7 linked regions of the Homo sapiens genome follow. The gene in region 1 interacts genetically with each later gene. Each region holds a gene or a part of one and is shown in the gene's direction. Other genes may lie near its edges.

Region 1 (3,500 bases):
TCTTTTAGACAGGTGCTCTAGTTCACAGCTATAGGGGAACAGGTGGAATATTTGAAGTTTGCTGGAATGCAGCAGGAGACAAAGTTGGAGCCAGTGCATCAGATGGTTCAGTAAGTATAGTAAAGTGTTTCCAAAGAGGGTGTGGGTGGGTATTCACATCAGAATGCAGCTTATTGTTAGTGATACCAAAGTGTTTTTTTCAAAATAAATTTTAAGGTATGATACTGATTTTTTTTTTTCCTGAGGCTGTAAACTTTTCATGTGCGTTGGATTCAAATAATGTAAACAAAATTTAGGCTGTCCTTACCAAATACCTTATAATCTAGAAATGGACAGTTATTTTTAATATGAACCTTCATTTATGAAATTAGGTATACCAGAGGAACATTCTGAGAAGGATTGAAATGTTTAATGTGTATTTCTACCTTCTCCTCTTCACAGAAGAATTTTTTTGGCCCAGGGAAGGCAGAACTAGAGGCAGTTGGTTCCTGTGTTGAGGAATGTGTGATACTGAAAGATTTTCAGGATGAGGTTAGCCAACTCTTTACAACAATGCAAATATGGCTTCCAAAGCTGTAGAAGCACCAGAAGGTGGGAAAAGGGTAGCTATTTACTGATGCTGTAGCTGAATATAATCTGTGATATCTTTCATTAGGGTCCAATAGATAGGAAATGGTCTGTTTTGAGCATTTTCCCCCTCCTTTTTAATCAACAGAGAGTATAAAAATCCTAGCCGTGGTTCTTCCCCCACAGTTTGAGCTCATGGTTGTTCTCTTGATCTGCTTAAATGATCTGTCTGATTTCTGTCAGTTAAGTGCTCATTTCCATGATTATTATGCTTTACCAATTTTATAAACTTGGAACTAAGAAACATTTCAAATTGTACTATAGAAAAGTTAAACATAAAATGTACAATAAAATTCTGAATACACTGGTTGATTATTTTAATTTCTTACAGGTTTGTGTATTAGACCTTCGGAAATAGCGCTACTAGTTGGAAGCCATGGACCGACTATGAATGTGTACATAGCCAAAATGACTGTCCCTGACCCATGTACTGCTATAGTCCCACTTGAACCATGGCCAGTCCACTACAGCCAAATCTAAAAGAAATATATACATACAGTGTATATAAACAAAATTGCACCCTGAAGATGACAGAGTTTTGTCACAGCTTGTGAATTCTGTTCACCAAGTGCTGGAATCTAATCTGCTGTGCCCCTAAAATAGCATTTAGAAGTTTTGGATATGAAAAACAGAAGAGAGAAAAATATACATTATAAAAGCAGAACATACATGTACCAGTTTTTGGATACTAAATGACAGCCTTGTTTCTCCCCTTTGAATCAGCAGACACCATGGATTATATTCTTTTTTTCCCTTCAGTAGTGAGCAGTTTGTATGTACAGAGAAAATGGACTTACAAAAACTTGCAGCAGTAGTTTGTTCTTGCTTTAAAATTTCGTTTTTGGTTTAGATTATGGATGCATGAAGTAAGGGAGTGAATCAGTTTCTTGTTTATATTTTTTTCACCTTTTAAACAAAAAATTCTTTAAAATATTTTAATGCATTCTTTTGAAGAGGTAGATGTTTGGTACATTTTATGGCTCCCAGAGCATATATTCAGTTGGTGCATGTTGTGGAAGGGGGAATTGGAAATTAAATGAAAACCTATGACTTTGGTCATGTCAATCTGTAAGACACATCAGTAAAAGGGTATTATGCTCTGTTGGTTTTGTTTTTTTGTTTTGCTTTTTTTTTTTTTTTTTCTTTTTTGTTTTTTGGTGATGTGGCTTAAATGCAATAGTTTCTTTTTTGGGACATATTTCTGCCAATTAAAGACTAGAAGGGCACAACTTTTTTTTTAATTACCATAGAGAAGATACATTAAAAAAAATCTTCTGATGTTTTGTAGCCATAACTAAATTATGGTAAAAATGTGCACTATTGTGAAAAGGAGCAACGTAGTTTTGGGTTTTTTGTTGTTTGTTTGTTTTGCTTTGTTTTTTAAGAGATTAAAATGTTTCTGGATAAGGATTAGCTTCTCGAAGTGTCCATCATTCTGTGTAGAAGCTTAAATATGTAATGTAACCAAACTCCAGTATTAAAAATCTCTCATGTTGTTTTCTTTATACAAAGCAAGATAACGGCATATAACACTGCCATTACATGGCAAAATGTTTGCTACCTTAGTTTAAAAAACAATCTCAAACAAAAGACTTGCTTCAAGGTGTTTTTAAATAGCAGTGATTCAGAATTTTTTTTAATGAAAGTATAATTGCACTAACCTTCTTCCTGCTGCTCTGATTCTGCATTTGTGGTACTTGTGACTACGTTTTTTCAAATATAGATAGATTTAAGCTGCTAATTTTTTTTTTTTTAGTAATCACTACTATATCATGTCTTTTACTCTGTTTATAATATCAAGTATTTTCTTAAAGATATAGATATTAAACCTTGTGCTCATGCAACTTAGAGTAACATATACAGACAAATGATTGCATGAGGCCATGTTTATATGTGTGACTAATAAGGCTTGTCATGATTAACATAATCCAGGTATGTCATTTCTGAAGAGAATAGTCATCAAATTTATATCTCGAAGATTTTAATTAAGGAATTGCTTATTGTTGAGCTTAGCAAATTAATAACACTATTTCTGTCACTAATTATTTTGAGGCCTTTTAGTACTAAAATTTTAACCTGTGTTCTAAGTAGAAACTGATTTAACCCAAGTAATGCAGCTTTGATTGATTTCAGCATTCGTTGCTTTGCTATTTTTACAAAACAGCATTGATTGAAGCAAGTCTTGGTTTTACTAAGGTAGGGTAGCATTTGCTATTGGTAAAGAGAATAAATACACTTAATTTCACAATACATTGTTATATGTACCCCAGTTGTTGTTAGTGGGGACTATGATACTGTAATAATATTTTTAAAAATTTACATCAAGAGAGGCAGTCATTCACGATGGTTTTGTGCCAGCTCTTTTTAGGGTTTTGGATCACATTAGAGATATTTAGAACATATTACCCTGTGACTTACGTAGGAAACCTAATATGCTGAGTATCTGGCACTTGAATTCCTGCTTTTATTGCTGGAGGTCCACATCTGTGGTTGACCTCTGTTATTGTTTAAAAAAAATAAATAAAAATTAAAAAAATCTGTGCAATAATTTTAAAATGTGCTCCCAGGAATAGACACAAATGTTTTGAGTATCTTTTAAGCTGCATTTTCCTTTAGTGATGCATTTGTCAATTGCACTGAATTTAAATCTGAAAGTCAGAGGTGATTATTGATAGTACTTTTGTATTTTGATATGGACAGTTTATTCATTTGCATACAGTTATTGACTTTTTCCCAGCTGATTAAAAGATAGTCAAGAAATTCTGCAATATAGCTGCCAAAATAGACAGCTACATTTTTATGATATTGTCATCTTTTCTGTTTTTTTTTTCTTTTTTTTCTTTAGCTATTTTACTTAAGCATAATAGCCACAA
Region 2 (3,500 bases), on another chromosome or scaffold:
ACAGATACATGTTGTTATACATTTGTCAAAACCCATAGAATATACAACACCTAGAGTGAGCCCTCATATAAATTGTGGAGTTTCAGTGATAATGATGTGTTCATGTTAGTTTATGGATCGAAACAAATAGACCTTTATGATGTGCGATGTTGGTGGTGAGAAAGGTTATGTGGTTGGGAAATGTGTAGCAATTTTTTGTACTTTGTGGCTCAACTTTTCTAGGAACGTAAAACTCTAAAAGATAAAGCATATAGCTTTTTTTATTTTTAATCAAAATCCTATGAAAGGTGAAAAGAAATTTTTTTTTTGAAAAAAGCAAAGTCAAAAGATAGTCTATCAACTTAATAGAAAAATTGTCGAATGATGGCCGGGCGCAGTGGCTCACCCCTGTAATCCCAGCACTTTGGGAGGCTGAGGAAGGTGGATCACCTGAGGTCAGGAGTTCGAGGCCAGCCTGGCCAACATGGTGAAACCCCGTCTCTACTAAAAATACAAAAAAATTAGCCTGATGTGGTGGTGTGTGCCTGTAATCCCAGTTACTTGGGAGGCTGAGACACCAGAATCGCTTGAACCCGGAGGCAGACGTTGCAGTGAGCCGAGATCGCCCCACTGTGCTCCAGCCTGGGTGACAGAACGAAACTCCATCTCCAAAAAAAAAAAAAAAAGAATAGAAAAGAAAAATGGTCAAATAATACATGACTAGACAGAAGAGATGACAGAAAAGGAAATATGTTTACCCATAGTCATACAAAAAAAAGATGTTATACATCATTTATAGTATTACTATACAGAGCTAACATTTTTATTTTTCTCTTTTTTTTTTTTGAGTCATGGTCTCACTCTGTCGCCCAGGCTGGATTGCAGTGGCGCAATCACGGCTCACTGCAGCCTCAACTTCCCGGGCTCAAACAATCCTTCCTCCTCAACCTCCCGAGTAGCTGGGACTACAGGCGTGCACCACCATGCCCAGCTAATTTTTGTATTTTTTCTAGAGATGGGATTTCACCATGTTGTCCAAGCTGATCTTGAACTCCTGGGCTCAAGCAATCCACTTGCTTCGGCTCCTAAAGTGCTGGGCTTACAGGCCTGAGCCACTGCACCTGGCCTTTCATTTTTTAGTGTTGGTATGATCTAAAAGTGTGACAGTATGCTCTGATAAGGCTGTAGGGCAATAAGTAATCGTATATTACTGTTGGTGGTATGAAAAGGCACAATTGCCATAGAGGACAACTTGGTAATATTCATCAAAATTAAAATTGCATTAACCTTTTAACTTAGCAATTTTACTTCTGGAAATTTATAGCTGTCCCTTTTTAATGAAATAACGTGCAGATGACCATTTATTTCAGCACTTTTTTGTAAAAATAGCTAAAAACAGCTTAGGTGTTTGTTGGTATTAGACTAGGTAATTATGGTACATCTTATAGTGCAGTACTATGCCATTTCAATATATTTATGTAAAAATAACAAAGATCTTTAAAAAGTACATAATACTATACCGTTGTAATTTTTCCATCAAAGTAACTTTTTTTTTGAGACCGAGTCTCGCTCTGTTGCCCAGGCTGGAGTGCAGTGGCATGATCTCGGCTCAATGTAACCTTCACCACCTGGGTTCAAGTGATTCTTCTGCTTCAGCCTCCCAAATAGCTGGGATTACAGGCATGCACCACCACACCTGGCTAATTTTCTTGTATTTTTAATAGAGACGGGGTTTTGCCATGTTGGCGAGGCTGGTCTCGAACTCCTGGCCTCAAGTGATCCAACTGCCTCGTCCTCCCAAAGTGCTGCGATTGCAAGCATGAGCCACCATGCCTGACTCCATCAAAGTAACTTTAATGACAGAAAATACGTAAACAAGTGGTATATGGGATTATACCTTGAAGTGACCAGTTTTCTAATAATTTCTACTTTATCTTTAAAATCTGTGGGCTTACTATATTCTCTCTAATATGTTGTAACTTTGAATTAATTTTTTAAACTGCTCTTATCATTGAGTAATCCTACTCCAGGAAGTTGCACCTTATTTATTTTTTGGCTGCTCTTACCCGTAATGTTTTGTCATCCATCCTAGTTGGATAAACACATGTGTAGCAAAGTTAATTCTTCAGGTACTACCTTATTATTTTTGTGGGCTATTTTTCTAGACTGATTCAACTGAAGAACTATAATCTGTAAACAGAATAGCCCAGTATTTGTCTCAAAATGGTTTATCAAGTTTGTCTTTTTTTTTTTTTTTTTTTTTTTTTTTTTTTGAGATAGAGTCTTGCTCTCTCGCCCAGGTTGGCATGCAGTGGTGCAATCTCAACTCACTGCAAGCTCTGTCTTCCGGGTCATGCCATTCTCCTGCCTCAGCCTCCTGAGTAGCTGGGACTACAGGTGCCCGCCACCACGCCCGGCTAATTTTTTGTATTTTTAGTAGAGATGGGGTCTCACCATGTTAGCCAGGATGGTCTCAATCTCCTGACCTCGTGATCCGCCCGCCTTGGCCTCCCAAAGTGCTGGGATTACAGGCATGAGCCACCCGGCCTCAAGTTTGTCTTCTTTCTAATGAATATATCCAACAAATGACACCTAAACCGATTTGATTTATTTGCAGTTGGGCATTACTAATGTTGTAGTGGTTTGTTCAGTATGTTTCTATTTAAAATATCTGTGTTCTGTGTTAGACATTCAAGTCATTCAAGGCTGTTTCTGTATAAAATATTCCCTTTAGCAGGATGAAGTTAAAGGAAGTAGATCGTACAGCCATGCAGGCATGGAGCCCTGCCCAGAATCACCCCATTTACCTAGCAACAGGTAAGTTCAAAGGAGAGAAGATAGTATGAGTTACCTAATTTCTTCTCTTCTGCACCTAGCTTATTCAGTTTAAGCTTTATCTTCTCTAGAAAGCCTCTCTCTCCCTGGCAAGTTACTGACATTCTATCAGCCAAGTTTAGTGTTCTTCCTCTGTGTTCCCATAGCATTTTGATCATGATGTGTTACATCTAAAATATTTTCCTTCACAGGAATTGTATTTTATCTTTATTCCTCCAGTATTAAGCACAATAGATGGCATGTAAAAAAAACAGTTAATATCAGTTTGAATGAATGAAGAGCAATTTTGATGTTAGCATTTTTATATAAAAAGAAATAGTTATATCATATATGTCTATAAGCAGATATAGTAAATCACGGGACTTTTTTTTTTTTGAGATGGAGTCTTGCTCTTTCGCCCAGCCTGGAATGCAGTGGCGTGATCTCTGCTCACTGCAAGCTCCACCTCCCTGGTTCCTTCCATTCTCCTGCCTCAGCCTCCCAAGTAGCTGGGACTACAGGCGTCCACCACCATGCCTGGCTAATTTTTTGTATTTTTAGTAGAGATGGGATTTCACCATGTTAGCCAGGATGGTCTTGATCTCCTGACCTCATGATCCACCCATCTCGGCCTCCCAAAGTGCTGGGATTACAGGCATGAGCCACCGTGCCCAGCCCCCATCACGGGACCATTTTTACAGAGATTT
Region 3 (3,500 bases), on another chromosome or scaffold:
TTAAAGGAGAGGGCAGACATTCAAACCTGCCCTTAAAGCAAACACCAAACACCTGCCCACTTCTTTTTTTTTTTTTTTTTTTTTTTGAGATGGAGTCTTGACCTCTCACCCAGGCTGGAGTGCAATGGTACGATCTTGCTCACTGTAACCTCCGCCTCCTGGGTTCAAGTGATTCTCCTGCTTCAGCCTCCCTAGTACCTGGGATTACAGGTGTGTACCACCACGCCCATCTAGTTTTGTATTTTTAGTAGAGACGGATTTCACCATGTTGGCCAGGCTGATCTCAAACTCCTGACCTCATGATCTGCCTGCCTCAGCCTCCCAGTGCTGGGACTACAGGCATGAGCCACTGTGCCCAGCCTTGCCCACTTCTTTTTTTTTGTTTGTTTTTGAGACAGAGTTTTGCTCTTGTTGCCCAGGCTAGAGTGCAATGGCACAATCTCAGCTCACCACAACCTCCGCCTCCCGAGTTAAAGAGATTCTCCTGCCTCAGCTTCCCAAGTAGCAGGGATTACAGGCATGTGCCACCACGGCCGGCTAATTTTTTGTATTTTTATTAGAGATGGGGTTTCTCCATGTTGGTCAGGCTGGTCTCGAACTCCCAACCTCAGGTGATCCACCCGCCTCGGCCTCCCAAAGTGCTGGGATTACAGGTGTAAGCCACCATGCCTGGCCCTCGCCCACTTCTTTTAACACACACTTCCCTTCCTTTCTTCACACACTTTGGATGTCGTGAACCTATGATTCAAACTTAAATCCATCTGATCCCACAGCTTGAGCCATATCTTTGGTCCATCCCCCAGAAAGTTGCTCACAGACAAATGGGAGAGCAAACAGGTCAATAGGATCAATGTTACAGTACGGATGATGGGAAGCAAGTCACAAACTCAGTTTCCAGAAGTTAAGACTCTCCAAATCTCCATTTCTGGTGAAGGGTTTAATGGGACAATGAGGGCGCGGCCCTGACTAGCCACAGTCCGGCTGACTGGCTTCTGCCGTGTGTGTATCTGATGGCAGGACAGAACGACCGTGCTTCTGCAGTTGTGTGTGGTGAGGCAGCACCGACCCCAGACCAGTACTTAGCAAGGATCAGTGGAAGCAAATTTGACTCTGCCTGTGGATACTGTTCTGTATGTCTGCACAAGGCTCGTTCCTGAGTGAAGGTGGCTTAAAAAAGTGGTGGCAGCAGCTGTTCAGACCAGTGGTATGAGCAGCCCTCACATGTGTATTCCACAGATGGGGTCTTTAACATTCCCTGGTCCTGTGCCTGCAGTACTTGGATATCCTCTGCTCACCTTGAGGCTGGTCTTTCTTTCTTTCTCTCTCTCTCTCTCTCTCTCTCTCTTTCTTTCTTTCTTTCTTTCTGTTTCTTTCTTTCTTTCTGTCTTTCCTTCTTTCTTTCTTTCTTTCTTTCTTTTTCTTTCTTTCTTTCTTTTTCTGTCTTTCTTTCTGTCTTTCTGTCTTTCTTTCTGTCTTTCTTTCTTTCTTTCTTGACGAAGTCTTGCCTTGTCGCCCAGGCTGGAGTGCAGTGGTACGATCTCGGCTCACTGCAAGCTCCCGGGTTCATGCCATTCTCCTGCCTCAGCCTCTCGAGTAGCTGGGACTACAGGCTCCTGCCACCACGCTTGGCTAATTTTTTGTACTTTTAGTAGAGGCAGAGTTTCACCATGTTAACCAGGATGGTCTCCATCTCCTGACCTCGTGATCCGCCTACCTTGGCCTCCTTTTTTTTTTTTCTTTTGAAATGGAGTCTTGCTCTGTTTCCCAGGCTGGAGTGCAGTGATGCCATCTTGGCTCACTGCAACCTCCGTCTCCTGGGTTCAAGTGATTCTCCTGCCTCAGCCTCCCGAGTAGCTGGGACTACAGGCGTACGCCACCATGCCCAGCTAATTTTTATATTTTTAGTAGAGACGGGGTTTCGCCATGTTGGCCAGGATGGTCTTGATCTCTTGACTTTGTGGTCTGCCTGCCTTGGCCTCTGAAAGTGCTGGGATTACAGGTGTGAGCCACTGTGCCTGGGCAATTTTTGATTTTTTTGTAGAGACGGGGTCTCCCTATGTTGCCGAGGCTTAATAAACTTATTCTTTCAGAATACTTTTAGAAAAGTTACGCAGATAGTACAGAGTTTTCTCACAATCCCTCACACATAGTTTTCCCTGTTATTAACATCTTATGTTAGTACGTATTTTACATTAAAGTCCATCCTTTATTCAGATTTCCTTAGATTTTTACCTGATGTCCTTTTGCTGTTCCAGGATCCCATGTTACCTATATTCATTGTCTCTTTAGGCTCCTCTTGCTGTGCCAGTTTCTCAGACTTTTATTGTTTTTGATGACCTTGACAGTTTTGAGGAGTGCTGGGCAAGCATCTAAAGAGGATCTCGGCCAGGCGCGGTGACTCACGCCTGTAATCCCAGCACTTTGGGAGGCCGAGGTGGGTGGATCACTTGAAGTCAGGAGTTCGAGACCAGCCTGGCTAACATGGTGAAGCCTCATCTCTATTAAAAATACAAAAATTAGCCAGGCATGGTGGTACGCACCTGTAATCTCAGCTACTCAGGAGGCTGAGGCACAAGAATCGCTTGAACCAGGAGGCAGAGGTTGCAGTGAGCCAACATCGTGTCACTGTGCTCCAGCCTGGGCTGGAGACAGAATGAGACTCCGTCTCAAAAAAAATAATAAAAAATAAAGAGAATCTCTTCTCAACTGGGATTTGTCCAGTATTTTTCTCTTTTTAACAGAGTCTTGCTCTGTCAGCCAGGCTGGAGTGCAGTGGTGCAATCTCGGCTCAAGCCATTCTCCTCAGCCTCCCAAGTAGCTGGGACTACAGAAATGCACCACCACGCCTGGCTAATTTTTGTAGAGACAAGGTTTCACCATGATGTCCAGGCTGGTCTCAAACTCCTGAGCTCAAGCGATCTGCTCACCTCAGCTTCCCAAAGTGGTGGGATTACATGCGTGAGCTAACACGCCTGGCTGTGTCCAGTGTTTTTTTCATAAGTAGACTGTGCCAAGTTTTGGGAAGGAGGACCAGAGAGGTAAAGTGCTATTTTCATCACATCATGTCAAGGGTACATACAATCCACAAGCCTTTCCATGACTGATGTCAACCATGATCACTTGGCTGAGGTGATGTGTGTGAGGCTTCTCTGTAAAGTTGTTCTCCCCTTCCCCTTTCCATGCTGCATGCACCCTTTGGAAGAAAGTCACTGTGTAGCCCACACCTAAGGAACAGGGACTTATGTTCATGTTCCCCTTGTTGAGGGCGGAGTAGCTACATGAGTTACTAAATTATTTTTTCTTTTTCTGTTTTTTTTGAGATGGAGTCTCACTCCATCGCCCAGGCTGGAGTGCAGTGGCGCAATCTCGGCTCACTGCAAGCTCCGCCTCCCGGGTTCACGCCTTTCTCCTGCCTCAGTCTCCCGAGTAGCTGGGACTACAGGCCTATAGGCGCGCGCCACCACACCCGGCTAATTTTTTTGTATTTTTTTTAGTAGAGA
Region 4 (3,500 bases), on another chromosome or scaffold:
ATGAGAACCACTTGAACCCTGGAGGCACAGGGTTGCAGTGAGCCGATATCATGCCACTGCACTCCAACCTGGGTACAGAGTGAGACTCTGTCTCAAAAACATAAGAATAGTGTCAGGCACGGTGGCTCAAGCCTGTAACCCCAGCACTTTGGGAGGTCAAGGTGGGCGGATCACTTGAGCTCAGGAGTTTGAGACCAGCCTGGGCAACATGGCAAAACTACATCTCCACAAAAACAATATAAAAATTAGCAGGACTTGGTAGCTCACATCTGTAGTCCAGATTCTTGGGGGACTGAGGTAGGAGGATGACTTCAGTCCAGGAAATGGAGGTTACTGTAAGCTGAGATTGCACCACTGTAGTCTAGTCTGGGTGAAAGGGCCATACCTGTCTCAAAAAGAAAGAAAGAGAGAGAGACAGAGAAAGAAACAGAAGAGTACATTGTAACTGTTGTAAGGTTGGATATTATTTTGTGAAACTGTTTTGTTTTGTTTTGTTTTTTTGAGACAGAGTCTCCCTCTGTTGCCAGGCTGGAAGGCAGTGGCGTGATCTCGGCTCACTGCAACCTCCGACTCCCTGGTTCAAGCGATTCTCCTGCCTCAGCCTCCTGAGTAGCTGGGATTACAGGCACGCGCCACCGTGCCCAGCTAGTTTTTGTATTTTTAGTAGAGACGGGGATTCACCATGTTGGCCTTGATCTCCTGGCCTCGTGATCTGCCCCCCTTGGCCTCCCAAAGTACTACGATTACAGGCATGAGCCATTGCACCTGGCCTGTTTTGTTTTGTTTTTAAGAGACAGGATCTCTAGGCTGGACACAGTGGCTCATACTTGTAATCCACCACTTTGGGAGGTCAAGGTGGGAGGATCACCTGAGCCCCAGATTTCAAGACCAGCCTAGGCAACATAGGGAGACCACATTTCTACAAAAAAATTTTCAAATTAGCTGGTTATGGTGGTACTTGCCTGTGGTTTCCCAGTTACTTGGGAGGCTGAGGTAGGAGGATTGCTTGAGCCCGGGAGGTCGAGGGTGCAGTGAGCCATAATTGCACCACTGCTGTACTCCAGCCTGGGTGAAAGATGAGACCTTGTCTCAATTTTTAAAGAAGGCTTAAACTGCTTAATCTGATTATAAATGATAAATGTCTAGTATGTTATTCTCTATTCATGAAATATAGCAAAGATAAGCTTTTTGGCCTTTTGAAGCATTTATGTTTTAAATGACAAATATGTTACTGTAAACTGGGATTATCAGCTGGCCAGGTATCATTTACTGCAGTTCAGAGTCTCCCAACCTCCATATTTCTAGAACTGAATTTAGACTGAAGGATGTGCCTCTTAAACTGCTCTGCCCTTTTGGTTTCTTGCTGGCAATTGTCTGCTGATATTTTATAAAGCTAAAAATTTTCTACTCAATTTGTTCCTTATTTTACATTTTTATCTCAGCCTAGGTATAAACTAGATGAATTTGATTGCAATTATTTTCATTGTTACTGCTCTTCATTTGCCTATTTTCATCAGAAAAAAACAGTGTATTTTCTGGTGAGATTGGCATGAATTTCTCAGATAAAGGAATATTTGGGGATGGTGTCCCTTTGGGAATATGATTGCTTTCTTGCATGGTGATTTGCTTCCACTTCCCAGGTGTTGAGAATAATAGGCAGTCAGAAGGTCTGCATGCCAAAGGCAGAAGACATTTGGGAATTTTTTCATCATGAACTTTAAGTTGAAGGAGTTAATGATTGGCTGGATTACAATATAAAAAGTGGATGTCTTTACAGTAAAGTAAGTAGAGCTTGAAATACAAAGAATGGAAACTCCTACATGAAAATGTTTTTAGGGGAAAAACATATTTTCTCTTTATGGTTTATTCTGCTCTAGGAAAACACCACCAAGCAAGTGAAACACATAATGTGATTGCATCAGACAAAGCAGCAGAAAAATCAGTTGTCCATGAACATGAGCACAGCCACGACCACACACAGCTGCATGCCTATATTGGTGTTTCCCTCGTTCTGGGCTTCGTTTTCATGTTGCTGGTGGACCAGATTGGTAACTCCCATGTGCATTCTACTGACGGTGAGTGGCTCCAAGGCTTTCTGGGCAGTGCAATACATTTGCAGTTGAGAAAGTTACAAACGATCAAATATTTCAGTCTGTATCAGTGGCCATATTTAGTGCTAAAACTCTTGTCTTCCTTGGGTTCTAGTGAACATTTAACTAAGTGGGGAGAGCTAGTGAGTTGTGGCATGTGGCGCAAAGAAGTGTTTATTGGTTTATTACTTTGCTTGTCTTAAAGTTGTCACATTTGGTTGAGAGTCTAGGGCAGAAGTTCTTAACTTAGTTTTTTGCTGTGGAGCCCTTAGGCAGTCTAAAGACTGTGGACCTTTTATTGGAATATTGTTTTTAAATGTATAAAACATAGTACATAAGATCAAAGAGAAAACCACCTTTGTTGAAATACAGTTACTAAAACATCAGAACAAATTTGTGATATAGTAATGTATGTCTTTATCAGTGCATTAAATAATGAGATAATACATTTAAATCCTAAACAAGTTAGAGTTGAATTTTATTTTCTAGGACATTAGTATGCTAGCTATTACATAATAATATGCTTGGCTTAAGAACATTAAATTATGAGGTAGTCTGTAACAAGGCAACATGTATGTCAAGTTAAACATCTAGTTGATTTTGGGTTTTTGTTTTGATGGTTATTGGTGTAGAAAATCTTGATTTACAAAGGTATTTTCTTACAAATGTACCTAAACACATTTGTAGCTTGCTTTTTAAGGAATCATAAGCTTCTCTAAAGGACAACTAGAATTCCCCAAGACTTTTCAAATTTGACTCCAGTCATAGTAACTGTTTTGTTTTAAGATCAATGAATTTATCTTTGGCTAGGTCAACATTTTTCATACGATTTATATTAATAAAAAAGGATTCTGATACATGATACACTTCGATCCTGTGGTGATAGAAATAAATTTGAGAGTTATAAAACTTCTCCAGGGATTGATGTGTAGACATATTTTTTCAGATATGTCAGCAGGGAATTTTGCAGATAGGAAATATTGGAAAGCAGCATAAGTATCTTGGTCCCCAATGGGAGAGCCTTGTGACTATCACTGTTTGGTGGCTGAGTGACTGTTAGATGCAGAGCTACTTGATAGTTGCCCAGCTCCATCACATGAGCATCTGCAGACAGGAAAGCTGTAATCATGCAGTATGGCAGCAGTTCTATAAGTCCTTAATTTAAAGTAGTGATGAGTGAAAGCGATAATTTAAAGATAATCTACAACTGTAAAATAACCTGATTAGTCTGATTTCTACTGGCAGTAAAGATAGTGCTGATATTACTTGTGGTTTATTGTCTGCATTCATAATTAAAGGAAATGAGGGGGCAGTCACCATGACTCACCTGTAATCCTAGCACTTTGGGAGGCCAAGATGGGCGGATCCTTTTGAGTTCAGGAGTTTGAGACCAGCCTGGGCAACATGGCA
Region 5 (3,500 bases), on another chromosome or scaffold:
GCAGGAGGATCACTTGAGCTCAGAAGTTTGAGACCAGCCTGGCCAACATATTGAGTCCCCATCTCTACAAAAAATACAAAAATAGCTGAGTGTGGTGGTGCACACCTGTAGTCCCAGCTACTCCAGAGGCTGAGGCAGGAGGATGGGCTTGAGCCCAGAAGATCGAGGCTGCAGTAAGCCATCATCGTCCCATTGCACTCCCGCCAGGGTGACAGAGCCAGACTATGTCTCATAAAATAATAATACTAATAAAATAATAGAAATAACTTAAACCATGGGTGAAAAATTGAATTGTTCTGGGAAAAATCAAGATGTATAGTTATCAAAGTGATAAGATAATGTGCTTTTTAAACTTTACTAGATAATACCAAGTGGTTTCTCAACATGGATGTTCAAAGGTATACCTCTTTCAGCTCTGTTGCTTATTTTTCTAATGGATCATTTAGTGTGCTTTTATTAATTTGTAGGGATTCTTTATGTATTCTTCGTGTTAATCCTTTCTCAGTTACATTTGTTTGTTTCACTTTTTTTAGGTTTTTAATGATAGAACTTTCCATTTTAATATAGCAGATGTATCCATTTTCCCTTTATGGTTTGTACTGATTATGCCTAGTTTAAGAGGCTTTGCCTACTCTGAAAATATATTCTCTTATATTTTCTTCTGAAAGTTTTGAAGTTTTGCCTTTCACAGTTAATTTTTGATCCCCCACCCCCGCCCCGCCCGAGACGGAGTCTTTCTCTGTCACCCAGGCTGGAATGTCGTGCCTCAATCTTGGCTCACTACAACCTCTGCCTCCTGGGTTCAAGCGATTCTCCTGCCTCAGCCTCCCGAGTAGCAGAGTAGCTGGGATTACAGGTGCCCGCCACCACACCTGGCTAATTTTTGTATTTTTAGTAGAGACGGGGTTTTACCATGTCGGCCAGGCTCATCTTGAACTCCTGACCTCGTGATACGCCCGCCCCGGCCTCCGAAAGTGCTGGGATTACAGGCGTGAGCCACCGCACCCGGCCTTCACAGTTAAGTTTTTAACGTCCCTGAGATTGATACTGTGTCTGTGGTGAGACAAGATTCCAAGTTTATTTTTTCCCAGCTGCATGATTTGTCTACACATCACTCAAGGAAAATCGTCTCTTCCTTTGATGTGTGCTACATATTCCCTTGTGATAGTTCAGTCTTGTTTTTTTTTTTTTTTTTTTTTTTTTTTTTTTTTTTTTTTTTGAGATGAAGTTTCGCTGCTGTTGCCCAGGCTGGAGCACAGTGGTGCGATCTCGGCTCACTGCAACCTCCGCCTCCTGGGTTCAAGTGATTTTCCTGCCTCAGTATCCCAAGTAGCTGGGATTACAGGCGCCCTCCACCACACCTGGCTAATTTTTGTATATTTAGTAGAGACAGTGTTTCACCATGTTGACCAGGCTGGTCTTGAACTTCTGACCTCAGGTGATCCACCCTCCTCGGCCTCCCAAATTGCTAGGATTACAGGCCTGAACCACCGTGCCTGGCCCAATATTTCAGTCTTTATACCATAGATTTTTGATGTATTCTACATAAATAATCATACACGAAGAATGAAGGTTTGTATTTTTTTCTTTTCAGTTTTTATTGTAGCTTTTAGTTATTTTTCTTGCCTTAATCCTGCCCGAGGACTCCAGTATTAGGCAGCATAAAAATGTTGAAGAGGACATCTTTATCTTTTTTCTACTTTTAAAGAGAATGCTTTAAACGTTTCACTGTTAATTTGAGGTTTCCTTTAGGTTTTTGGTAGATACCTTTGATTGCATTAAGGAAGTTACTTTCTGTTGCTAGTTTGCTGACAGGTTTTATCTTGAGCAGATGCTGAATTTTATTAGATACTTTCTTGTGCATCTATTGAGATAGTCATGTACTTTTATTTAATCTATCGCATTAAACCAACAGTACATTTCTGGGATTACCTGAGTTTGGTAGAAAATAAATACATTGCTGATTCAGTTAGCTAATATTTCAAGATTTTTGCATGTGTGTTCATGAGTGAGATGATAGCTTCCCTTTTAGTATGGCCTTGTCAAATTTTGGTCTCAAGGTTATATTAGCCTTATAAAGTGAATTGGGTCATGTGTCTTTTTTCTTCTCTGCAAGAATTTTTGTACTGTAGGAATTATCTGTACGGAATCTTTGGTAGAATTCACTGGTAAACCCTCTGGACCCTATATTTTCTTTGTAGGAAGACTTAACTACTGGTTATACTTTTTTTATGGTTATAGAACTATCTCGTCATATATACATGGTTATTACTAGTGTCTGCTTTGCATTTGAACCTTACATTGGAATAAGATTAGAGTAAGGAAACCCTTGAAGTGAAGAAGCTATTTTGCTACAAATTATATGTCCATTCTCACAAAATCTTATGTATATAATTTATATAGATGTAGCTTTATAATATATGTATGTCTTCCCATTCATAAAAGCATCATCTAAATCACGTTTTATATCATTTTTATTTGAGCATTCCTCTTGATTTTCTAGAGAAGAAACCCTCAGATCCTTACTTACAAGCATTTTCCTGCATCTAGATTTTATTTGTGTGAAAGCAAAAGTGATCATCCTTGCCCTAAATTATTAGGGCTTTTTATTACTTTGGTATTTACTTAAGAATAAAATTTATTTTTTTATTTTCTTCTCTTCTCAAAAGTGGTTTGCAGGTATTAATGAAAATTTTGGACATTCCCATTTTATCAGTTCTCCTTAATTTACAATTTATAAAGTTTTTAAGCTTTATAATTTAGAAGCATTTTACCTTAATTTTTATTATTTTGGTGGTTTTTCTAGGCGATGTTTTTTGTTATTATATCTCTGATAAACAGATTTCCCTAAATCTTACAGGTTTAAAGCAGCTTCATCTTCACAATAGTAAGAATTGTTTCTTTAAAAAGTTTCTTCACAAAGGCAATAAAACTTTTAAAATCTGTGAGATTGAATCAGAATTAGCTTTAGAACCTAGAATTTTGTTAGGGCTGAGGGTAGATGAGACGGAGGGAAGATCCCTTTCTCTCATCATTAGCTTATATCGAAATCAATTCTTATTTCTAAAATAAAATACGCAGACCACGCTAGTGCCTTCAAGTCCTGCTGGGAGACTTCAGAGGGGGCACTGCCTCATGCTGCCTGTTTGCTCCTTGTGCCCGGCCTCTATCCCTGCACAGGAAGGACCCGAAGGAGCAGCCTTACCATGCACAGGGGGCTCCCCCTTTGGGGTTCTAGGGCAATTTGTTCTTCGGGCTCCCGGTGAAACATGGCAGGAAAAAAAACGTTTTACTCCTTTTCATTGGATTTTTTATTCATTTATACTTAACAATTATTGGATGAATGTATAAGGGAATTAGTAGCTGACCAGGCTGAACCGGAAACTTCTTCAAAATGTATAACTTGGATTATGTACTTTAAAATAATGTTTTGGGAAGGCTGACTCATTGGGAATACTATGATGGAAGTGTTGACAGTGAGAAAAGGGTAGTCTTATCTA
Region 6 (3,500 bases), on another chromosome or scaffold:
GATCAAATACATGGGTATCTGGCCTACTATATTTGTATTCTAGACTGTTTAGTAAAATAATACAGGAATTTGAGAAAACCTTTGCAAAAGTGTTAGTGAAAATTACTTAGGGTGAGAGGAAGTGAGGGATATTTTATTAGGGGAGGTCACAAGGGCAGTGAGCAATCAGATTTTTAGTAATCTGACTTAAGCAGTTTCTTTTTGTTTTAATGAAGCTTGTTATCTTTATAAAAGTAATTAGAGAAAATTTGGAAAATAAAGGAAAGAAAGAAAAGTTCTTTAGTGTTTTATCACGCAAATACAAGCTCATTCGTTTTTAACATCTTGTTCCAAACTCCAAAGTCTTGCTTTCTCTTCAATTAAAACTTTAATGGGTGGATGCTTTTCCTGCTTCCAGTATGTTATCTTAATAACTAACAATGGTATATTAGCTAATGTTTACAAATGTACTCCAGATGTTCCTTAAGTTACTTTGGTTTATCATTACCAATTTATATTGTTTCTTTTAGAAATTTATAATCTTTGTTAATGGGTTCTGCTAAATTTGGTAGTGAAAATGGGATCTTGAGAAAAAAGATTCTGAAGCAACAGAATTTTTAGATTTATATTGGTTTACATAAGAGTTGGTAGCTGTATTACTTTTTTTGTTTGTTTTGTTTTTTTTTTGAGACGGAATCTTGCTCTGTCGCCCGGGCCTTGGCCTCCCAAAGTGTTGGGATTACAGGCGTGAGCCACTGTGCCTGGCTGTTTGTGTTTTTTTTTGTTTTTGTTTTCTTTTCTTTTTCTTTTTTTCGAGATGGAGTCTCACTCTGTCACCCAGGCTGGAGTGCAGTGGCGCGATCTTGGCTCACTGCAATCTCTGCCTCCTGGGTTCAAGCGATTTTCCTGCCTTGGTCTCCTGAGTAGCTGGGATTACAGGCATTTGCCACCATAACCAGCTAATTTTTGTATAGAGTACCCAGCCATCTCTAATGTTGATCAGGCTGAAGCAGGTGGATCACCTAAGGTCAGGAGTTCAAGACCAGCCTGGCCAATATGGCAAAACCCTATCTCTACTAATACAGAAAATTATCTGGGTGTGTTGGCTGGCGCCTGTAATCCCAGCTACTCGGGAGGCTGAGGCAGGACAATCTCTTGAACCTCGGAGGTGGAGGTTGCAGTGAGCCGAGATCACACCATTGCACTCCAGCCTGGGCAACAGAGCAAGACTTGTCTCAAAAAAAAAAAAAAAAAAAAAAAAAAGGCAATTGAAAGTGTAATCTGAACAGTTAAAAAAGTAGATAGAAAGGGTTAAAGCTTTTTTTTGAGGATCTGAAGAAAAATGTGGATTTTTTTTGAGCTACGTTTTGAAGCAGGCAGTGATTATTTCAGCACATTAAGAAATGCTTAACATGGCCAGGCGCAGTGGCTCACGCCTGTAATCTCAGCACTTTGGGAGGCCGAGGTGGGCGGATCATTTGAGGTCATGACCAGCCTGGCCAACATGATGAGACACTGCCTCTACTAAAAATACAAAAATTAGCTGGGTGTGGTGGTGCACGCCTGTAATTCCAGCTACTCAGGAACCTGAGGCAGGAGAGTCACTTGAACCTGGGAGGCGGAGGCTGCAGTGAGTCCAGATCATGCCACTGCACTCCAGCCTGAGGGACAGAGTGAGACTCCTCAAAAAAAAAAAAAAAAAAAGAAAGAAATACTTAACATTATTCTCGTGATTATTCTCATAACATTTTTCATAATCCACTGGCTTCCAGTGGATTTTTTTAGTGTCAAGAAAATAATTTTGATTGGTTCATCTTTAAGGAATGTGTTAAGAATAAAGCATGTCTACCTGTCTTCAGTATACCAGCTAACTATAGTAGGAAGAAATATAGTAGTCTACTTAGATCAACTATAATTCTTTAATGCAGAAAAAGTTTAAAGTATTTACCTTATTTTTAGCCCCCATCCCCTTAAGTATATCATGGCTCCAGAATCTCTGAAAATGTTATCAGTCTTTCAGACTTTGCTCTTCTTTCATGTTATACTCAAGAAACATTTGACCTTTTTTTTTTTTTTTGCTTGCATTGTGTTTCAAATAATTTTTAACAAAACTTAAGTGTTTGAAAGTGAAAGCAGGTTGTCTTTGTGACTTTTGGTGGTGGTTTGAAAAACTCAGAAAAGTTTAAAGAAGAAAGATAACTAGTATTCTCATTGTCCAGAATATGATTTTTTAAATGTCTATAGAATATCACCATCTGTAATTCTTCCGGTAATTTAAGTATTCAGTAGTTGTATAAAACCTTTAAAATATATATATTGAGAATTTTGTGTGAATGAGATGATGAGATAATCTTGTAGGATCATTTAAAGATAAGAACTGAGGCCTGGCACAGTGGCTCATGCCTATAATCACAGCACTTTGGGAGGCCCAGGCGGTAGATCACCTGAGGTCAGGAGTTTGAGACCAGCCTGGCCAACATGGCAAAACCCTGTCTCTACTAAGCATAGAAAAATTAATTGGGTGTGGTCGTGCCTGCGTGTAGTCCCAGCTGCTTGGGAAGCTGAGGCGGGAGAATCTCTTGAACCCTGGAGGTGGGCATTGCAGTGAGCTGAGATTGCGCCACTGCACTCCAGCCTGGGCGACAGAGCAAGACTCTGTCTCAAAATAAAGTAAAATAAAATGAAGATAACAACTGAAATTTCACATTAAAAATTTTTTTGTAGCGACTGTGCCTCCTATGTTGTGCAGGCTGGTCTCAAACTCCTGGCCTCAAGCGATCCTTCCAAAGCACTGGGTGGGCCACCATGTCCAGCCTGAAATTTTGCATTAAAAAATTTCCCGCTTTTGGCTGGGCGAGGTGTCTCACGCCTGTAATAGCAGTTTGGGAGGCCGAGGCAGGCAGATCACTTGAGGTCAGTTCTAGACCGGCCTGGCCAATGTGGTGAAACCCTGCCTCTACTAAAAACACCAAATTAGCTAGGCGTGGTGGTGTGCGCTTGTAGTCCCAAGCTACTGAGGAGGCTGAGACAAGAGAATCGCTTGAATCTGGGAAAAAGAGGTTGCCGTGAGCCAAGATTGGCCACTGCACTCCAGCCTGGGTGACAGAGTGAGATTCTGTCTCAAAAAAATAAAAAATAAAAATTTCCCCCTTTAATCAAATTAAGTTAAAATGAGGGATGTTAGACAGTTTTTAACCATCAAATATTTTAGTTTAGTTTTTTTTTTTAACGTTGTCTTAAAGATGGAAGTGCTTCAAAATCAAATCTTCCTTGCCAGTTCTCTACTTGGCTTCTTTTTTTTTCTTTTTGAGACAGAGTCTCACTTTGTCACTGGAGTGCGTTGGCGTGATCTCGGCTCACTGCAACCTCCGCCTTCCAGGTTTAAGTGATTCTTCCACCTCAGCCTCTCAAGTAGCTGGGAGTACAGGTGTGTGCCACCACACCCGGCTAATTTTTGTAGTTTTAGTAGAGACAGGGTTTCACTATGTTGGCCAGGCTGGCCTCAAACTCCTGACCTCGTG
Region 7 (3,500 bases), on another chromosome or scaffold:
AAAAGGCAGCAGTAGGGTTTAAACCCCGGCATTTTGTCTTTATTGCCTCTAAACTTAACTTGCTTTAAAAGATGATAAAATGTCCCACAAAGGAGCCTAAATTCCTGAATGATACTGCATATCACTTGGATAGTTATCTATGCTGAGTTGTATAACTTTATGCTTGTCATTTAATTTTACAATTTGGTGGAAGCCAATGTGAAAGCAAGGAGACTTCTGTTGTGGAGTAGGTGTTTTAAACTGAATACCATATTCAGCCTTGGGGTGCTGAATATTTAGTTCACAGCTAGGATTAAGATACTCAACTATGTTAATAAAATACAGTAGATGAAGTCCTGCATTTTAATTGGGATTGATTCACTTAGAACTAAGGATCAAAGTTTAAACTTATTGCAGCGTTAGGGGCCATCTTTGTTGCTAGTTGAACAAGTCTTGGTCGTTTTTAACATGGCTCCTTAGGGTATTTTCTGAAGTTCTGTCTACTTCATTGGAAAGTGTTTGCACTACGCAGGAGTGACAGCAATATGAAATGCTTTGTATTCAAGGCAGCAGAGGTAATCTGGACAGACAGTACATGTGCTTTAAAAGCAAGATACAGTCATAGAAAATATGTAGATAATTTAGCCGGGCATGGTGGCTCGCGCCTCTAATTTGGGAGGCCGAGGCAGGTGGATCACGAGGTCAGGAGTTCGAGACCAGCCTGACCAATATGGTGAAACCCCATCTCTACTAAAAGTGCAAAAAAAAATTAGCCTGGCATGGTGGCATGCACCTGTTATCCCAGCTACTCAGGAGGCTGAGGCAGGAGAATTGCTTGAACCCGGGAGGTGGAGGTTGCAGTGAGCCTAGATCATGCCATTGCACTCCAGCCCGGGCGACAGAGTGAGACTCTGTTTAAAAAGAAAAAAATAAGTATTTGTAAATGTATATATATATATATATACACACACACACACACATATATATATAAAATCATTATGCCATCAGTTTGAGGGAGAGCATGTATGCCAACATTGTAGAGACTAAGTGCCCATTTATCCATAATTAAGATAAGCAGACTTTTCCCCATTGTACTATAAAGTTAGAGTTTGGGGCTGGGTATGGTAGCTTCCGCCTGTAATCCCAGCAGTTTGGGAGGCTGGAGCGGGCGGATCACTTGAGGCCAGGAGTTCAAGACCAGCCTGGCCAACGAGGGGAAACCCCGTCTCTACTAAAAATGCAAAAATCAAGTCAGGCGTGGTGGTGCAGCCTGTAATCCCTCCCACGGAGGCTGAGGAATGAGAATCACTTGAACCTGGGAGGCAGAGGTTGCAGTGAGCTGAGATTGTGCCACTGCGCTCCAGCTTGGGCGACAGAGTGAGACTGTCTCAAAAACTAAGCAACCAAAAACAGAAAAAGATGGAATGGAATTAATATGTTCCATTTAGTAAAGATGGAATAGAATTGGTCCAGTTTGTGTTCATTGTAGCATATTCACCTATTTGGTCAGCAACCATTTTTTTTTTTTTAAAGCCTAAGCATACCCTGAGAACAACAACCTTTTTTGATTAGAACAGAAGAAAAAGCCAGAGTGTTCTTGGGCTGCCAAAATATTAATACGTTTGTCTCAAAGACGAGCCACTTAGGTGCTTGCTTAGAGACTTCTACTTTACACAGAATTTGAAAAGTTTGACAGCTGGCTACTTACTCTGCAAAACGGAAGGGAGACTTTTTAGAACAGCAACTGGTGATCTGGCAAAAATGAAAAGTAGAACTTGTGAAGAAATGAGATGGACTTGGTGTATTAATAGCTAATTTTAGAAGACCCTGTGGATATTCTAAATCAGCATAATAGTGATGTCTGAGCCATAGTGTTAAATTATGATTACTGTATTTGAAGTATAAGAAGGCAGAAAAGTGTGATGCTGTTAGAAAAAAATCTCATTTCAAATGATTGAAGGTTAAAAACAATTGGGGAAAGATTAGAGAGGGCAGGCGGTGCTTTAAGGGAGGTGGAATAATACTTGGCTCCTTATTCTCCAAAAGTGCTGGATAGCTGAAGTTTTTAATATTCTGGATAATTGATATTTGATTATTAGTTTAGGAGGGATAGCATCTTCAGTGAACCCTTGTAGCTCTAAGGTAGGCATATTAAACAACTACCATACTAAAGGTGGGGAGTACGTTTGGAGAGCACTTTGCTGGGCCAGCTGATGATATGCTTAGGTGATATTTAAGAAAATCTGCTTCTTGTCTGAAAAACATTTGGGGCTTCAGAATAATACCACATACCTCATTCTTGGTGTTTTAATTTATTTCTTTGTAATTGTTTTCTGTTTCTTAATAATTTTAAATTAAGGGTATTTTCCCAATATAAACATTGCTTTTTGGTTAAATAAAATCAAAACTAGTTCTGTCTCCATATCTGAATAGACCAGACAGAGAATTTTCTTGCCTTTCAACAGCTTAAAAAATGTTTTTGTTAGAACTGTTGTGTTCAGGCTGAAATACTTTCAAAGTTTGTTAGTTATTATTGAGAAATTTCTGTAATAATCATGGAAAGGGTAATTTAATAGTTAAATCTCAACTTAATTGAAGTTATTTCTGTTGTGGAACTTATGGTCATCTTAGCAAGAGGTCATTGCTTTATAGTCAGTTCTCTTTCTCATTAAAAATATAGTGTACTCACCTTTACAGGGTGAATGTTGGTAAATAACTTCTGTCTGTGAAGGAAGTATTCTGGACCTGTAAGTTAAAAATAAGGTGTTTATAGCAAATTATGTAAATAAAGATTGTATATTAGAAGGTACACACTATTCAAATTAAAGAAAATGTATATTGAGAAAATAACTCAAATTTCTTCCATGAAATTGGCAAGAAGTAAACATTTCAAATACACAAAACATTATGGGTATTTTTGTTCATTTGATTATAAAATGCCAAAGTTGTTTTATAAATGCTACTTCAAGCCTGGAAACTTTGAGGAAGTCCTGAACATTAAGCATATAAATGGCCCAGCTCTAGAATACATGTAAGTTGAAAAGCTAACCTGAAGTGGGAAGCGCAGTATATACCTAAGACTTACTCTGCACTGAAAGTTTGCTTTGTCACTAGAAGTAAAACAAGACTGTGGTAGGATAGTAAGATCAGTAACACCTCAGTTAATCAGGTATCTTGGAGGAAGTGAAGAAAGACCCTAATTCAAGGGACAGTTAATTGGCCTTTTATTCCAAGAATGGGCCTTAGTGGCAGTATCTTAAAAGCCCACAAGATGGAGATGTTTCCTAATGAAAGGCCTTTAATTTCTTTATAGAGCTGAGTTAGTGTCACATCCCAGTCCCCACCCATGACCCTTCCCCAGTTAAAAAGAAGAGAAAATGTTGAGCAAGTCTGATTTGATTCCCATGGTGACATTTTTAGCCATTATGTAACAAATTCTGACAGTTTACCCTTAAAATTAAAAACCTCCAGTCCTGTCTTTTTAAAGGGTAGAAAGAAGGTTAGGTATAGGATAGCTTTTT

The links.
Region 2: changes in TBL1XR1 (region 1) and SEC31A together harm fitness more than expected from each alone (negative genetic interaction), as found in Homo sapiens cells (one large-scale study listed by BioGRID).
Region 3: changes in TBL1XR1 (region 1) and RAB5C together harm fitness more than expected from each alone (negative genetic interaction), as found in Homo sapiens cells (one large-scale study listed by BioGRID).
Region 4: changes in TBL1XR1 (region 1) and SLC39A9 together harm fitness more than expected from each alone (negative genetic interaction), as found in Homo sapiens cells (one large-scale study listed by BioGRID).
Region 5: changes in TBL1XR1 (region 1) and TRAPPC12 together harm fitness more than expected from each alone (negative genetic interaction), as found in Homo sapiens cells (one large-scale study listed by BioGRID).
Region 6: changes in TBL1XR1 (region 1) and RAB1A together harm fitness more than expected from each alone (negative genetic interaction), as found in Homo sapiens cells (one large-scale study listed by BioGRID).
Region 7: changes in TBL1XR1 (region 1) and HNRNPD together harm fitness less than expected from each alone (positive genetic interaction), as found in Homo sapiens cells (one large-scale study listed by BioGRID).

Annotation. Positions count from the first base shown.
Region 1 is NC_000003.12:177,022,983-177,026,482, reverse strand, and holds part of TBL1XR1 (F-box-like/WD repeat-containing protein TBL1XR1), read left to right. Parts: intron 1-8; coding exon 9-110; intron 111-958; coding exon 959-985; 3' UTR 986-3,500. UniProt on the Homo sapiens protein: F-box-like protein involved in the recruitment of the ubiquitin/19S proteasome complex to nuclear receptor-regulated transcription units. Plays an essential role in transcription activation mediated by nuclear receptors.
Region 2 is NC_000004.12:82,881,154-82,884,653, reverse strand, and holds part of SEC31A (protein transport protein Sec31A), read left to right. Parts: intron 1-2,713; 5' UTR 2,714-2,717; coding exon 2,718-2,796; intron 2,797-3,500. UniProt on the Homo sapiens protein: Component of the coat protein complex II (COPII) which promotes the formation of transport vesicles from the endoplasmic reticulum (ER).
Region 3 is NC_000017.11:42,144,990-42,148,489, reverse strand, and holds part of RAB5C (ras-related protein Rab-5C), read left to right. Parts: intron 1-3,500. UniProt on the Homo sapiens protein: The small GTPases Rab are key regulators of intracellular membrane trafficking, from the formation of transport vesicles to their fusion with membranes.
Region 4 is NC_000014.9:69,440,192-69,443,691, forward strand, and holds part of SLC39A9 (zinc transporter ZIP9), read left to right. Parts: intron 1-1,640; exon of another isoform or gene 1,641-1,781; intron 1,782-1,877; coding exon 1,878-2,075; intron 2,076-3,500. UniProt on the Homo sapiens protein: Transports zinc ions across cell and organelle membranes into the cytoplasm and regulates intracellular zinc homeostasis. Participates in the zinc ions efflux out of the secretory compartments.
Region 5 is NC_000002.12:3,382,694-3,386,193, forward strand, and holds part of TRAPPC12 (trafficking protein particle complex subunit 12), read left to right. Parts: intron 1-3,500. UniProt on the Homo sapiens protein: Component of the TRAPP complex, which is involved in endoplasmic reticulum to Golgi apparatus trafficking at a very early stage.
Region 6 is NC_000002.12:65,123,607-65,127,106, reverse strand, and holds part of RAB1A (ras-related protein Rab-1A), read left to right. Parts: intron 1-3,500. UniProt on the Homo sapiens protein: The small GTPases Rab are key regulators of intracellular membrane trafficking, from the formation of transport vesicles to their fusion with membranes.
Region 7 is NC_000004.12:82,360,492-82,363,991, reverse strand, and holds part of HNRNPD (heterogeneous nuclear ribonucleoprotein D0), read left to right. Parts: intron 1-3,500. UniProt on the Homo sapiens protein: Binds with high affinity to RNA molecules that contain AU-rich elements (AREs) found within the 3'-UTR of many proto-oncogenes and cytokine mRNAs.